2 linked regions of the Homo sapiens genome follow. The protein of the gene in region 1 purifies or fractionates together with the protein of each later gene. This does not show direct contact. Each region holds a gene or a part of one and is shown in the gene's direction. Other genes may lie near its edges.

Region 1 (7,028 bases):
TTCAGTTTTCATGGCAGAACATACTACAGTAGTTATAGTGGAACAATGAATATGGTATAAAAATAATATCAGCAAAATATCACAATTATACTTATTGACGATAAAAGTTTCTTTATATACTATGCTTTAACATCGATACAAGTTTGTGTGTTTTAAAACTTAGAGGTCTTTTTTCCCAAGTTTGACTCTGAGGCAAATTTTAGGGCTTAATCATCTATGTAATGAGCAATTAGGACCCTTTTATTTTTAACTGGTTCTTCTCTGTCTCTTGTTCTATATCACTCACAAATGATGTATTTCTACAGAACTTGGGAGATTCAAGTCTGTTTCCCTTTTAGGAAAAAAATAGTGGACAAAAGAGATCTTCGTTTTGGTCGAATCTATCAAACAGTTTAACATTGTTTATGAAATATAATTACATCATCATCTGAAGTGGTATTGTGTTAGATCTCGATGTGAATTTTGCATCCAAAGGGGAAGACAGGTGGTGGTAGAATCCAGCTTCCTAATACGCTTTGCAAAGGCTTTGTAGTATTAGTTTGTGGTTTATGAATTAGAGATGCTAATTTTATAAAATTAGCATAATGGGAAAAGAATAATAGCATGTCAGCTGTTAAACTTTGAGGCAATAGTGGTTGCTTGTTTGCTATTCAGTGAGTGTCCTTGAGTAGTTTATTTTATCAATACTATACAGTATTAGGAAATAACTTTTTCCTTCTAGTTAGTGGTATAGCTAGTTTTTTGTCTCTTAAGTAAAATTCTAGAAAAGCCAATTGTATCCTTAAATGTTTTTGTATTCTATTTAAGAAACAGTTTCTTTCTTGTTGCTTTCAGGACAAAAGAAAGAAAAATAAATAAAGAAGTAGTCTCTTATTATAATATAAAAAATAAGAGTATAGTGAACAAAAAAGTATACATATAATTCCTCCACTAATGGGAATAACCCATTCTTAACATTATGGCACTAGTCTTTTTATTTAAATGCATTTTTTCCATAGATGAAAGCACATGGTACATATATATAAATTATGTTCTTTTTTCTACTTAATATTATAACCTAGGCGTTTTGTTTATTATATATAACTTTATAAAAACATTTTTGTTAGCTGCATGGTGTTCTACCTTGTGGATGAATATCGTTTTACCTAACAATTCCCTTATTAATGAATATTATGCAATTTTCAGTTTTTGTTTATAGTAAATAATACGCAGTGAATATTTTTGTGCCTATAACTGAGTGTGCATTTTACATTTTTTTTAGGGAGGAGAAATTGCTGGTAAAGTCCTAAAAGGAAATTTCCTAAGTAACAAGGTATTATTTTTACATTAAAGAGTAGTGTATTTTTATTACCAAATCTGTCGTGTTTATTATTGAGAAATTTAAAAGTATAAATAGGAGGCCAGGCTAGATGGCTGACACCTGTAATCCCAGCACAGTGGGAGGCCAATGCAGATGGGTTGCTTGAGGCCAGGAGTTGGAGACCAGCCTGGTCAATATAGCAAGACCCAGTCTCATTAAAAAGAAAAAAAAAAAAACTTATAAATAAATGAAAAGAATTCCCCATAAAATCACAACCCCAAAGATAACCATAACTAGTTATTTTCAGACCTTTTCTATAATAGATAACTTGAGTTTTCCTCAACACCATATACCTCTCATATTGCTTAGCTAAAGAGCATGTAAATGTATAGTCTGTGGAATCATAAAGATATTTCATAGAGGTTCTAAAAATGACCTTATTAAAATGGCATGTGGGTGTCAGGCTGCTTACTTACCCTTAAGAGAACTTGGAATGCAAAACTGATAACAAGGACATTTTGAAAACTGTATTTGTTTGCTAAAAAGCTTTCCATGTGCATTTTGGGGATTTTATAGTTAGGCCTAATTCTTTACCACCTTAAAATGTAAGATTTTTAAAAGGTTTTCAGAATTGTTAAGGTATTAAAATTGCATTTTTATAGCAAAGTCAGAAACAAGAGAAAGGCATATTACACCCTGATTATGATGTTTCTTGAAGAGAACTCATTTTAAAAATACATTTGAATTTTCTATTTTGCTTTAAAATTTTAAGACTCCTTTCAGTAGTCTTGGTATTAATCTTGTACTGTGAAATATTCCAGATTTCAAGAAGCAACTGTACTATGTGCAACAGAAGGACTTGTTACCAAATAACTCAATCGCTAATATTTGTATCTAGTCTTATGTATGATCTTTAATTTTGTATTGAAATAAAATTGTATTTGTCATGGAATATATATACTTTCATAGAATTTTTCTGTAGTTTTTGGCACCCCAGACAAATAGTATTTGTCAAAGTATTCTGCTAACTATTGTTCAAAATGATCTGCTCTTTTTTGGGAGTGGGAACAAACATGCAAAATAAGAGTTGTGTAAATGTTTATATTCTGTAGAAATTTTAACTTTAACAGAGTTTAATGTGTTCTGATTTTAAACCCTCTGGGAAATACTATCTCAGTACCAGTCAATTAAGAAAACAATTATTTGGAAATAACTGAAACTGGCCTATCTTCTTGGATTCACATGATGACATTTGATTTATGACCCACTGCTGATGGCAGATTCATTTCCTTGGAGGCAAATGGGTTCCAGAATTCATTAGGATATCGTTCTTTCCGCTTTAATGTACCTAGTACCTCTTCTACCTTCCACCTCCATCTTTTCGAAATAAATTATATAAAACTTTCTTTATTCAGAACATTGGTGTAGAATACTTTCCCATCCTTCACAGAGAAATAGCCTATATATCCATTTTGAGATATTAGAAGATCGAAAGATAAACTTGGAAATTCCATCAGAAACTTCATTTTAAAAAAATTTTTAAATACTTTAAACAGATTAAGAGATGAATATTGGATGAATTAAACTGAGAAACAATACTAAAATTTATTTTAAGTTCTTCTTGAAAGTAAACATAGTATTGATATGGTTTCCCCCAGTTATAGAAGTCAATGCATCTTCATTGTAAACATTGTTGAAAAGCCCAAAGAAGAAGATTAACATCCTTACTTCCACTCTCCAGACCCAGAGATAATGCCTGTTAATATTTGGTTCATCTTCTTCTAGTTATTCACATATATTTTATATGTATGTAATAAAATTGATGTCATGTATGCATATAATCTGTGTTTTTTACTTAACATGTTGTTAACATTTCCGTAAGTTTGAAAACTATGTAAAGCATAGTTAAATAGTATTTGTGCATTTGACTATCCATATTTTATTTAATCAATTTCCTATTACTGAACATTTAGTCTATTTCCATCTTCCTGTCTCTCTTTCTAAAATAATGTTTCAGAGGGCATCCCTCTACATACATCTTTGTGCATGTATCTAATTATTTCCTCAGTGTAATTGCCTAGCAATGGAATTCTTGGGTCAAGGAGTATGTACATTACCTATCTTACGGTGTAGGATGCCAAATTACCCTCCAGAAAAGGAGTACCCGTTAATTTTCACCAGGAAGAACTCATATTTTGCAGGAATATTATTTTCTAAATCTCTGCCAACTTGATAGCAGAAAATAATATTCTTCATTACTTTTAAATTTTTTTCTATTTTTATTTTTAATTAACAAATACATGTTTACATTTTGTTACTTCAATTTGCATTTCTTTAATTACTTTGTACAGTTTTATATGATGATGATTTGCATTCCTTTTATAAATTTTTTTGTCCTTTGACCCATTTAATTGCATTGTCTTTTTTGTTGATTTGTTTAAATACTTTTTAAGATAGGGGATTATTTTTAATCACTTCTTTAATCATCTTAAAAATTCTCAGTTTAATTTTTGTGAGTATATAACTATCGGACCATTTACCTTTTCCCCCAATCTGTTTTTCCTACCCACTATTATAAAAGTCAAATCAATTTTTTTTTTGGGGGGGGGACAGGGTCTCACTCTGTCACCCAGGCTGGAGTACAGTTGCGAGATTACACCTCACTGCAGCCTCCACCTCCCAGGCTCAAGTGATCTTCCCACTTCAGCCTTCCAAGTAGCTGGAACTACAGGTGCACACCACCATGCCTGGCTAATTTTTAAATTTTTTGTAAAGACAAGGTTTTGCCATGTTGCCCAAGCTGTTCTTGAACTCCTTGGCTCAAACAGCCCTCCCACCTTGGCCTCCCAAAGTGCTGGGATTACAGGCATAAGCCACCATACCCAGCCTTCAAATTAAATCCTAATGAGAATTTATTATTTGAATAATTTTAAAAGCCAAATTTACATTGGAAAAAAGTCTCCTTTTTATTTATTCTGAGAGGGTAACTAGAGAATTCTCTATTTTACTACTGACTTTTACTGCTTTCAGAAAGTCTTTCATTATAGACCACTCAATCACACTTGCTTTTCAATCAAATGATAGGCTAGTAGGTTGTAATTCCACCAATGATTTGTTGTATAAGCTGAAAGTTGTATTTATTTTTTAATTTCAAAGGTCTAATGTATGGTATGATAGAGCTAATGTTACTTGGTACTTCAGAAGGACAGTGTAGAATTAGTATATTAGTAATAGGACTGGAGTAAATATTATCTAAGACAAGAAACACATGTTAATCCCTTGTAATTTGTTATTAGAAGAATAGCTCTTATTTGTAACTTCTTTATAAAATCTCCAAAAGCTACTTTTTTTGGCTTTAATCTGTGGATTTATAGAACCCAAAAGCAACTTTTGTATATGTGGTTTCTTTAAATGAGATTAGTATTTCTTTTATGAGAAGTTAATTTGTTTTTCTAAAATCAAAGAGACAGGATAGGCCAGGCATGGTAGCTCACGCCTGTAATCCCAGCACTTTGGGGGGCCGAGGCGGGTGGATTGCTTGAGGTGACGAGTTTGAGACCAGCCTGGCCAACATGGTGAAACCCCATCTCTACTAAAAATACAGAAATTAGCCTGGCGTGGTGGTGCATGCCTGTAATCCCAGCTACTTGGGAGGCTGAGGCAGGAGAATCACTTTGAACCCTGGAGGCAGAGGTTGCACTGAGCTGAGATCGCACCACTGCACTCCAGCAGTGACAGAGCAAGACTCTGTCTAAAAAAAAAAAAAAAAAGATAACAAACAGTTTGAAAAATGAAAAAATTCCATTTATTCATCAGTTTAACACTTTTTACATTTCTGCTCTTACATTTAATTCTTTGTCCTCCTGTATAAAATTTGTATTTTACATAGTTGTTACTTTCATAGTGTTTTTTAAAATTTCACATTGTTAGAAACATTTCTGTATATATGGTCTTCTTAATATTTAAATCATAAAATAATATAGCCATTTTCTAAAGAATTTTGAAAATGAGAAAATGAAAACTAATATATCTCAGAGAATTAGTATATGATAAATAACTGTCATTGTTCTGGGTTTTTTCTTATTAGAAAAATAATACATGTTCACTGAAGAAAAATTGCACAGAAAAGTACAAAGCAGTTTTTTGTCATCTTTTTCTACTCATACCTTATGCTGAGACTGCACTGATATCTCAGTTTTCTAATACTCTATTGATTATATGTACACATAAGGCTGGGTGAGGTGGCTCACACCAGTAATCCCATACTTTTTGGAGGCCAAGGCAAGAGGATTACTTGAGCCTAGGAGTTTGAGACCAGCCTGGGCAACATGGTGAAACCCACTCTCGACCAAATGTGTGTGTGTGTGTGTGTGTGTGTGTGTGTGCACACCTGTAGTCCCAGCTTCTTGGGAGGCTGAGGTGGGAGGATCATTTGAGCCTGGGAGGCAGAGGTTGCAGTGAGCTGAGATCGCGCCAGTGCACTCCAGCCCAGGCAACAGAGTGAGACCCTGTCTCAAAAAAAAAAAAAACTACACATAAATCTTTGTCCTCATTTCAGATTATTTCCTTCAAATAACTTCTCAGAAGAGTCCTTAAGCTACATGGAATGGATGATTTTTAAGGTTCATAATAAAGACTACTAAATTGCTTCCCAGAAAAATTATAATCTATTTTATATTCCTACTAACTATCTGAAACAAACATCTCACTGAACTTTAGCTGACCAGGTTATTTATTTTTTAATCTTTATAAATATAATAAGTGAAAATGGTATTTTGTTTTTAATTCATATTTCCCTGAGTATTTTGAAGTTGAATATTCAATGTTGCTACTTTATGTGGGATTTAGTTTGATAGTAATCATTCTAGTTTGTCCTAATGTTCTTCAGTTTATACAGGAAACCTTTATTCAGTCCTTTAGTAGAAGGAGTATTCATTTTTCTGTCATATAAATTTATTGAAAGTTTTTTTAAGATAATGTATATATAATGATTAGAGAGTTGAATAGATGAACACCACCAAAAAAGGGGATCTTTCCATTCGTGGAGTTCCTTTCTTGACCTACTTTCTTGTTACCATGCAGATTTTGTCTCTTATACTATGTTGAGAACTAAATAAGAGAAGGGATATAGAGAGGAAGTTCCCAGAAATCTAAGTTCATTCTAATCCTTAAAAGGAACTATTGGAACACAACCCTTTTGCAAATTAAGGACTTTCAGTGCACCTTTGGGGAAATCCCCAAATACTTTTTTTTTTGTTGGTAAAATGTGTTCATCTTCTTCTTACATACCTATTAAATTGTTGAGGGTAGGAATCAAATCTCATTCATTTTTATATCCCAGGCATAATTCCTGGCACACAACAGATGCTGTGTAATGTATTACTACAAGACCCTTTGAAATAGTGAAAAGATTAAAGTTGGAGTTAGAAGGCCTAGGGTTTTTCTTCCTTAATTCATTAGAGCTTTAAGACCTTTGTTGATTATGTGACATTATTTGAACCTCAGTTTCAACTCATGAGTGTACTGCTTGTTTCATTTACTTCACAGAATTGGGAAATAAATGAGATAAAATATGCTGAAGTATCTTTAAAAATGCTGTGCAGTTGTGAAAGTCATCACCATTGTTAGTATTATACATATTTCTGGGAAGTACTTGATAGAGAGCTCCATTGTTAAGAAATTACTTGGATGAGTTTGGCAGACTGCTAGCTGATCATTGAAAACTCTG
Region 2 (7,028 bases), on another chromosome or scaffold:
CTACCACCTGGTATCAAATCAGTCGGGGCTCAGTTGCAAGAAATGATTTGCTTGAAAAGAAAATAGCTTTGGTTATTTTATTATCTTGTTTCTATTAAGTGACCACACCTGTGTTGTGGGGTTTTGTCTGTCTTGGGTGTTTTTTTAGTTTGTTCCCTCTCAGGCATTAGTGTTCTTATTCTCTTTCTTTGTAGCCAGTTCACCCAGAACTCAAAGGAGGAAGAGTGATAGGTCTTTGTTCACATTTGCCAGAAAGACGGTCATGTGTGGGAAACTATTTAGTTGCCGATTCTCTGATCCACCAGAAAGAAATCATTTAATCATGTATTCTTACTCATTCAACAAATACTTACTGAGAAGTATTTATGTATCAGTAAGGTGACCATATCATTAATGTTCAAACTGGGACAGTTTTGCATGTAAAAGTGGACACTACCTGGTTCGCACTCTAAGACAAATATAAACCAAGATTTTCTCAGTCAGATGTCATTGGGTTCCCTATATATTAGTGGCTGAATTTGGACGATTAGAGTCTTGGGTGATGCTAAAGTTTCCCAAAATGCCCTTAAGGATTAAGGACAAAGCCAGGAAGGGGTATAGCTTCCAAAGCCATGAGATGAAAAGACATAAAAGATAAATTTAGATTAAAGTTGAACTAGACATTTCTAAAATTTTCCCACAACTCCCTTTTTTAAATAGATTTCATGTTTAAAAAAAAAATAGAACAATGTCTCTGGAAGGTAATGACTCCACAATGGAAGCCAAGTTCCCCTGAGATGAGGCTACCTGGAGGGGCTTAGAAAAATGTTTAGAATTTATAAAGAATGAAATTTCCCACCAGGGCTAAGTGATGGTGATATCTTTTGAAAGAGGAGGAACAGAATGGAACAAGAACAGTGTGTGATTCGTTATTAGCCTCTTCTTTCTCTAACTTGGAGTTTCTTCAATGTGGCTATTATTTTGTGTGTGATAATAAATGATATTAGCATGCACACTCTTTTCCTATGGAAGATCTTTGGTTCTGAAGTGATTTGTTTCTCTTGCATCCCAGGTGCCTGTCCTGAGACCCATGGACCTGATGGTGGAGGCCACCCCACGAAGAGTATTTGCCAACGCACACACATATCACATCAACTCCATATCTGTCAACAGCGACTATGAAACCTACATGTCCGCTGATGACCTGAGGATTAACCTATGGAACTTTGAAATAACCAATCAAAGTTTTAGTATCCTTTCTTTGTGATCAAGAATCAACTGGCCTGAATTAAGAGTATTCAGGTGCGAGTGGGCTGGGAGAAAATATGGAATAGAAATGCAACACCTAGCATTTGCGGAGAACTTGCCCCTTTTAAAATACACTGGCACCTATGAGACTCTTTAATCATAACAATAAAGTTAGGGAAATATTGTTATTACAAGTGGGAGGCCAGGGCTAGCTCTGGATTGGGACTCTGAATCAATTCCTTCATACAGAGGCATTTATATGTCACGAATTAAAATTAGAGGTGATTTTATCAACAATAGGATAAGACCCTAGAGTTCAGGTTCTTTCTCTGTTAAAGGATTCATAAATCTGTATGGACAGCATGGACCACAGACATACTGGTTTCCATTGTCTCATAATAGTGAAAATAATAGTGACTGACATTTATTGAGTTCCAAGCACTTGCAATGGGAACTTTATAGTATTACATTTTTTACCTCATTGAAGTATATTATGCATATAGAAAAGTACATATTATAATTGTACAGTTTGATGAAATGTATAGTATACATATTATAATTGTACAGTTTGATAAAATGTACAGTATACATATTATAATTATACAGTTTGATGAAATTTCAGAGGTTGAACTCACCTATAACCAGCATTGACATCCAGAAACAGAACTTTGCTAACAATTCTCAAGCCCCCATCATGCCTCTTTATATTAATAATTTCTACCCCCAAGGACATATTTGATAAAACAACCCCATAATGTAAGTATCATTATCTCCTGTTTAATTAAAATATAGAAAAGTCGGCTGGCCGCAGTGGCTTATGCTTATAATCCCAGCACTTTGGGAGGCCTAGGTAGGTGGATTGCTTCAGGTCAGAGGTTTAAGACCAGCTTAGCCAACGTGGCAAGGCCCCAACTTTACTAAAAATACAAAAAAGAAATTAGCCAGGCATGGTGGCGGGCGCCTGTAGTCCCAGTTACTTGGGAGGCTGAGGCAGGAGAATCGCTTGAACTGAGGAGGCAGAGGTTGCAGTAAGCCGAGATCGTACCACTGCACTCCAGTCTGGGTGACAGAGCCAGACTCCATCTCAAAAAAATAATAAAAATAAAAAATATATAGAAAGGTAAAAAAAAAAAATGCTGAATAGCTGGGCCAGTATTTTCACCCCCACTATGTTGACCCTCTATTTCATAGTAAAAATTGGTCATTTATTGAATACCTATCATGTGCTCCATTTCTCACAAACCTAAGGCATGAGATTTATGAGGAATGGCACTGAACAACTCAGGTAACTGAACAATTGACCTAGGTATCAATATGGAGTTTTCTCTTCCACTTACCAGCCTCCCCTACTCTAACTCCATCTATCCATGAGCCCTGCCTCTAAAATATATGTCAAATCAACGCATATATCCCTATCTACCTACCTACACTAGCATAAGCCACTGTTGTCTCTCACCACTGTGACTGCAATAATCTCATCTGGTCTCCATTCATTCTTGCTCTTTTATACAGTACGAACCCTTCAACATGTAATTCAAATATCATTCCTTCCCTGATAAAAAACATTCCAGTAGCTTCCCACTAAACTCAGAATAAAATCCAAGTTATTTAACTTGGCCTATAAGATTCTGCGTGATCTGGAACCTGTCTCCATCTTTGTTATCCAGTCTTGTCACGCTTCCCTAATTCACTTCATTTCAGCCAACTAATCACTTTTCTGTTCCTAAGTAAACCTTATTCTTCCATTCTTTGCATTTGCTGTTCCCTCTTTCTAGAATATTTTGCCCACAGCATTCACATGGCTAGTTACATGTCACTTCAGGCCCCAGAGGTACTCTTTCCCATTAACTCTTAAGTAGCTACCAATAACACTATCCCTGTTATTGTCATGGTACTTACCATGATTTGAAATTTTTTTACTTATGTATTTTTGGTTTCCTCATGTTAGGATGTAAATTCTACAAGAGCAAGGGCCTTGTATGAACTATTGCTGTATTCCAGTACGTGGAACACTCTGACATACAGAAAATTATTGAACCTGTCAAGTTCGAAATAATAGTAGGTCATCAAAGTAGCGCTATCCAGTAGACAGTTCATAAAATCTAACCTGGAAATTTAATTTTAAGAGTTATAGTAAAGCTCTGAAGGTTCGTTTATAGAATAGACCCCATAATGGCTCAAACAAATAAAAGATTATTTTCGTATGAAGTCTAATATTGATGATCCCCATCAGCAGGCAGCCTCCTCCAATCAGTAATTCAGAAACTCGGGCCTCTTTCATTTGCAGCTCCCCAATGTTACCATGTTTATAGCAGGACTGTAAAAGGGGAAGGTCATGGAAGATCACAAGTGGGAGATTCCTCTGAGCCATGCCCTAAAAAAGTATGCATTCCATTGGCTAGAATTCAGCCACATGGCTAACTCTTAACTGCAAGGCAGCCTAGGAAATGTAGTCTGGCTGTGTGCCCAGGATAAAAAGACCCGGTTTTGGTACACAGCTAGCTAGTCTCCACCATGGAGAGCACTCAACCGTCTCCAAGGGCTTTCAGGGAAGGCAGCTTTAATCAGATAGTGGCAATTATGAGATATATTTGGAGACAATGAGAACTGACCATCAGGACCATGCCTGGCATATTTTGTTGATCACGGAACAGACTCCACATGCTGTCTGGGCCTGCCTACAGATTTTGCCTGGCAGTGCAGCTGCTAATAGAATGAGTGTGGGTGGTGGTTCCCTTTTTCTCTCTCCATCTATTCCAAGAGCCAGAAATCTGCTCAGGCTCAGCTGGCTGTCACTCTGAGCTTCTGCTTCCCCAGTCTAGGTGACATGTTTTCTGAATTTTGCCTCTAGGCCTTCAAGGGGGAGGGGAGTTTCTTTAGGCATTTTGGGAGACAGATGCCTTGGGGAGAATGCAAAGGGGAAATATTAACAGCGCAGTTTAGGTTATATTCTGCAGATGTGTGACAGACTGCCAGATGCTGGCATACAAATGAGACCGTGCCATTCACCCTTAAAGCAGCCATATGTAAAATAATCATTGTCATCATGAGAACGATGATAAGTGATATCTATATAGTTCTTTTCAACCAGACCGCCCTAAGCACTGAGCCTCTCATCACTGAAGTATAGCCACCTCTGGGGTAGGAAGCGGCCATCTTTCAAAACAGTCTCAGAAAAATACCAGCCACCAGGCAGGTCTCATTTCCACAATGCCCCTTATTCACAAAGGAGACAGAAGAAACATGGTTCAGGATAGAATAATTTGGGATTCCCAAAGCATAGTGTGGCTACTACTGGGGATGGTAAGCAATGTGCTTCTAAGCAATAGTGAACGTCAAAAAACATAACCATCATATCCTACAATTTCATAGATATTCAAAATCTATTTAGATTACAAAGTAAGTGTATGTAAAGCATTAAGTAAATAGTGAGACAAGGGATCTGGAGATATGGTTAGAAAACAGTCATGACTTCCTGTGACTGGCATTTGGTGTGACTTTGGCATTACGGTTGAGAACTCAGGCTTCAGAGTCCAACAAGTGATAGAGGTCTCACCCAGCCCTACCACTTTTCTGGCTGTATAAGCTTTAACATGTTCTTAATCTATCCAAGCCTCCATTTCTCATTTTGTTCATCTGTAGAAAGCAGCTCTATCACGAGAGGATTATGAAAATTAAACACACACACACACACATACGCACGCACACATTTAGGGTAGTGCCTTGCTAAGCAAATGCTCAGTAAACAGGACTAGCACAATCATGATAATTATTGAGAGAACAAGGAAACTAGAAAAGTTGAACATTAGAATGGTAGCTTTTATTCTGCTAATTTTATTATCTGGATTGTCTTTTCAATTCTAGACTCTTCCTTTGGTTCTGCAGTTGGGTGTCCTTTGCAAGATGCTGCCCCCTAGTTACTAAATGTTTTCAGGAACTCTGAGGTCTAGGGCCTTGTGTTTAGCACCAGATCAGAGCAAGGCATTTCTAAACCTCATGATAACTGGTCATGAATTCTCTCCCTTCCATCCATAGCCAGTCTGTCCTTGTCTTGTGTAACAGTTTCCCACATAAGCAGTCAAACTTTCGTCTTAATAGGCTAACTACATCAGGACTATAACAACTCATTAATAGATTAGTAGTTTTCTAGGGCAAGAGACAATAGCAATAAATGAAAATTTATATTAAAAGATGTTGCTTCTTTATGAAAACTATGGTATACCTAGAATCCTTTGAACTCTTTTTGCAGGACTAAGAATGAACTGACCTGAGTTCTTACCTTGTCCAACATGGGATCTATTAAATAGGCCCATATCGAGTAAAAATAAAGACTAGCCCTCAACGATGATAAATTGAGCACCTAGTTTGTGCCAGGCATGAAAATGGGAAAAAACAAATTTGCCGCTTTCAGAGTAATGTTCATCAAATACACTGAGTATATAATTACAAACTGAGATAATTTCTGTGAAGACAGGGAATATGGTTCTATGAATGCATTTTTAAAAATCCTGCTATAGACCAGGGAAGGCTTTGCTGAAGAATTAGTTAAGATCTGAAAGAGGAAGACTATGAACTAACTTGGCAAAGAGGTGTGGAGACATGTGTTCAGTGTGTACAGAGGTCCTGTGGCAGGAGAGAGTATGACATGTTGGAGGAATTCTAAGAAGGCCACTATTTTTGAAGCCCAGAGAGTGAAGTGGAGCATGGAGTAAGCAAGGCTGGGAAGGGTAGCAGAAGCCTCACCTTTCAGAAGTCCAGTCTCTGAATATGAGATAGAGGACTTATCTGGGAGAAGCCAGCTGGACTCTAGGGATACTTCAACTTTGACCTTGGTCCTAACAACCCTGTACAGTGGCTTCATTTTATTTGTCAACCAAGCTGAAGCCCTGTTAGAGTCGATTCCCTAATTAAGGGACCAGGTAGCCTCAACTCTTGGCTTCCAGGTTCTAGCACTCATTACTACCATGGACAGCAGCTTCCTTTTAATTCAGTGGGATTCTGCCAGGCAGGCTTCCAGGGGAACTGTGGGGTCTAGTACAAGTTTCTCCCCTGTTGCTGCTTCAGTGGCTTTCACCCTGCCCAATACATATTTAATATGACACCATGTGTCTCTTTGTCAGTCTCCTCATATTGAGCCTAGGAATTGGCAAACACTCCATGAATATTTACACATTGACTTTTTTTTAAGCTCTTAAGAGAGGAATATCCCTTGGAGTCCTCTTTGGAGATTTCCAGTGTCTCATCATCAAGCAACATGTCCTTTCAGCTAATAAGATCTTTATGTTTCATAATCATTGCTTAATATCCAAAGATTAAATTTAGACCATGGAAAGGGAAAAAGATCTCAAAGCAACTCATGTCCCTAAAAGGAAATCACACTCATCAAACAAATACGCTGTGTTCACACAAAGATATTACTATTTTCTACCTTCAGTACTGGCAGACTTTAAGTGGGATATGAAAAGCCTCAGCTGCTTTTGAATGTGGGTACTTTACCCTGGTAAACATAGATTCCACTCTTCAGCTTGGCCAATGTTTATAATACTCAGCCCTGCAGAAAAGCGTCCTACTTGGCTCTCTTATCCTCCATTGGCTTAGACAGGAATTGGGGAAATACGCATGTCAGTATTAGCAAAATCAGCAGCAAAGGGACAGAGGCATATGAAAGTCACCTCACAAAGGCAATGCATATAAACCCTATCCTTGGAGAAATATGTGCTTCCTTCAGAAGAAGGAATATTCACTCCAGTGTAAAACCACTTAAATTATCTTTTCCATTATCTTGTTTAATAATCAAAATT

The links.
Region 2: the proteins of SIK2 (region 1) and PPP2R2B purify together in Homo sapiens (co-immunoprecipitation; 2 studies listed by IntAct, with this or other methods). This does not show direct contact.

The regions. Positions count from the first base shown.
Region 1 is NC_000011.10:111,605,434-111,612,461, forward strand, and holds part of SIK2 (serine/threonine-protein kinase SIK2), read left to right. Parts: intron 1-903; exon of another isoform or gene 904-1,312; intron 1,313-7,028. UniProt on the Homo sapiens protein: Serine/threonine-protein kinase that plays a role in many biological processes such as fatty acid oxidation, autophagy, immune response or glucose metabolism.
Region 2 is NC_000005.10:146,644,748-146,651,775, reverse strand, and holds part of PPP2R2B (serine/threonine-protein phosphatase 2A 55 kDa regulatory subunit B beta isoform), read left to right. Parts: intron 1-1,051; coding exon 1,052-1,229; intron 1,230-7,028. UniProt on the Homo sapiens protein: The B regulatory subunit might modulate substrate selectivity and catalytic activity, and might also direct the localization of the catalytic enzyme to a particular subcellular compartment.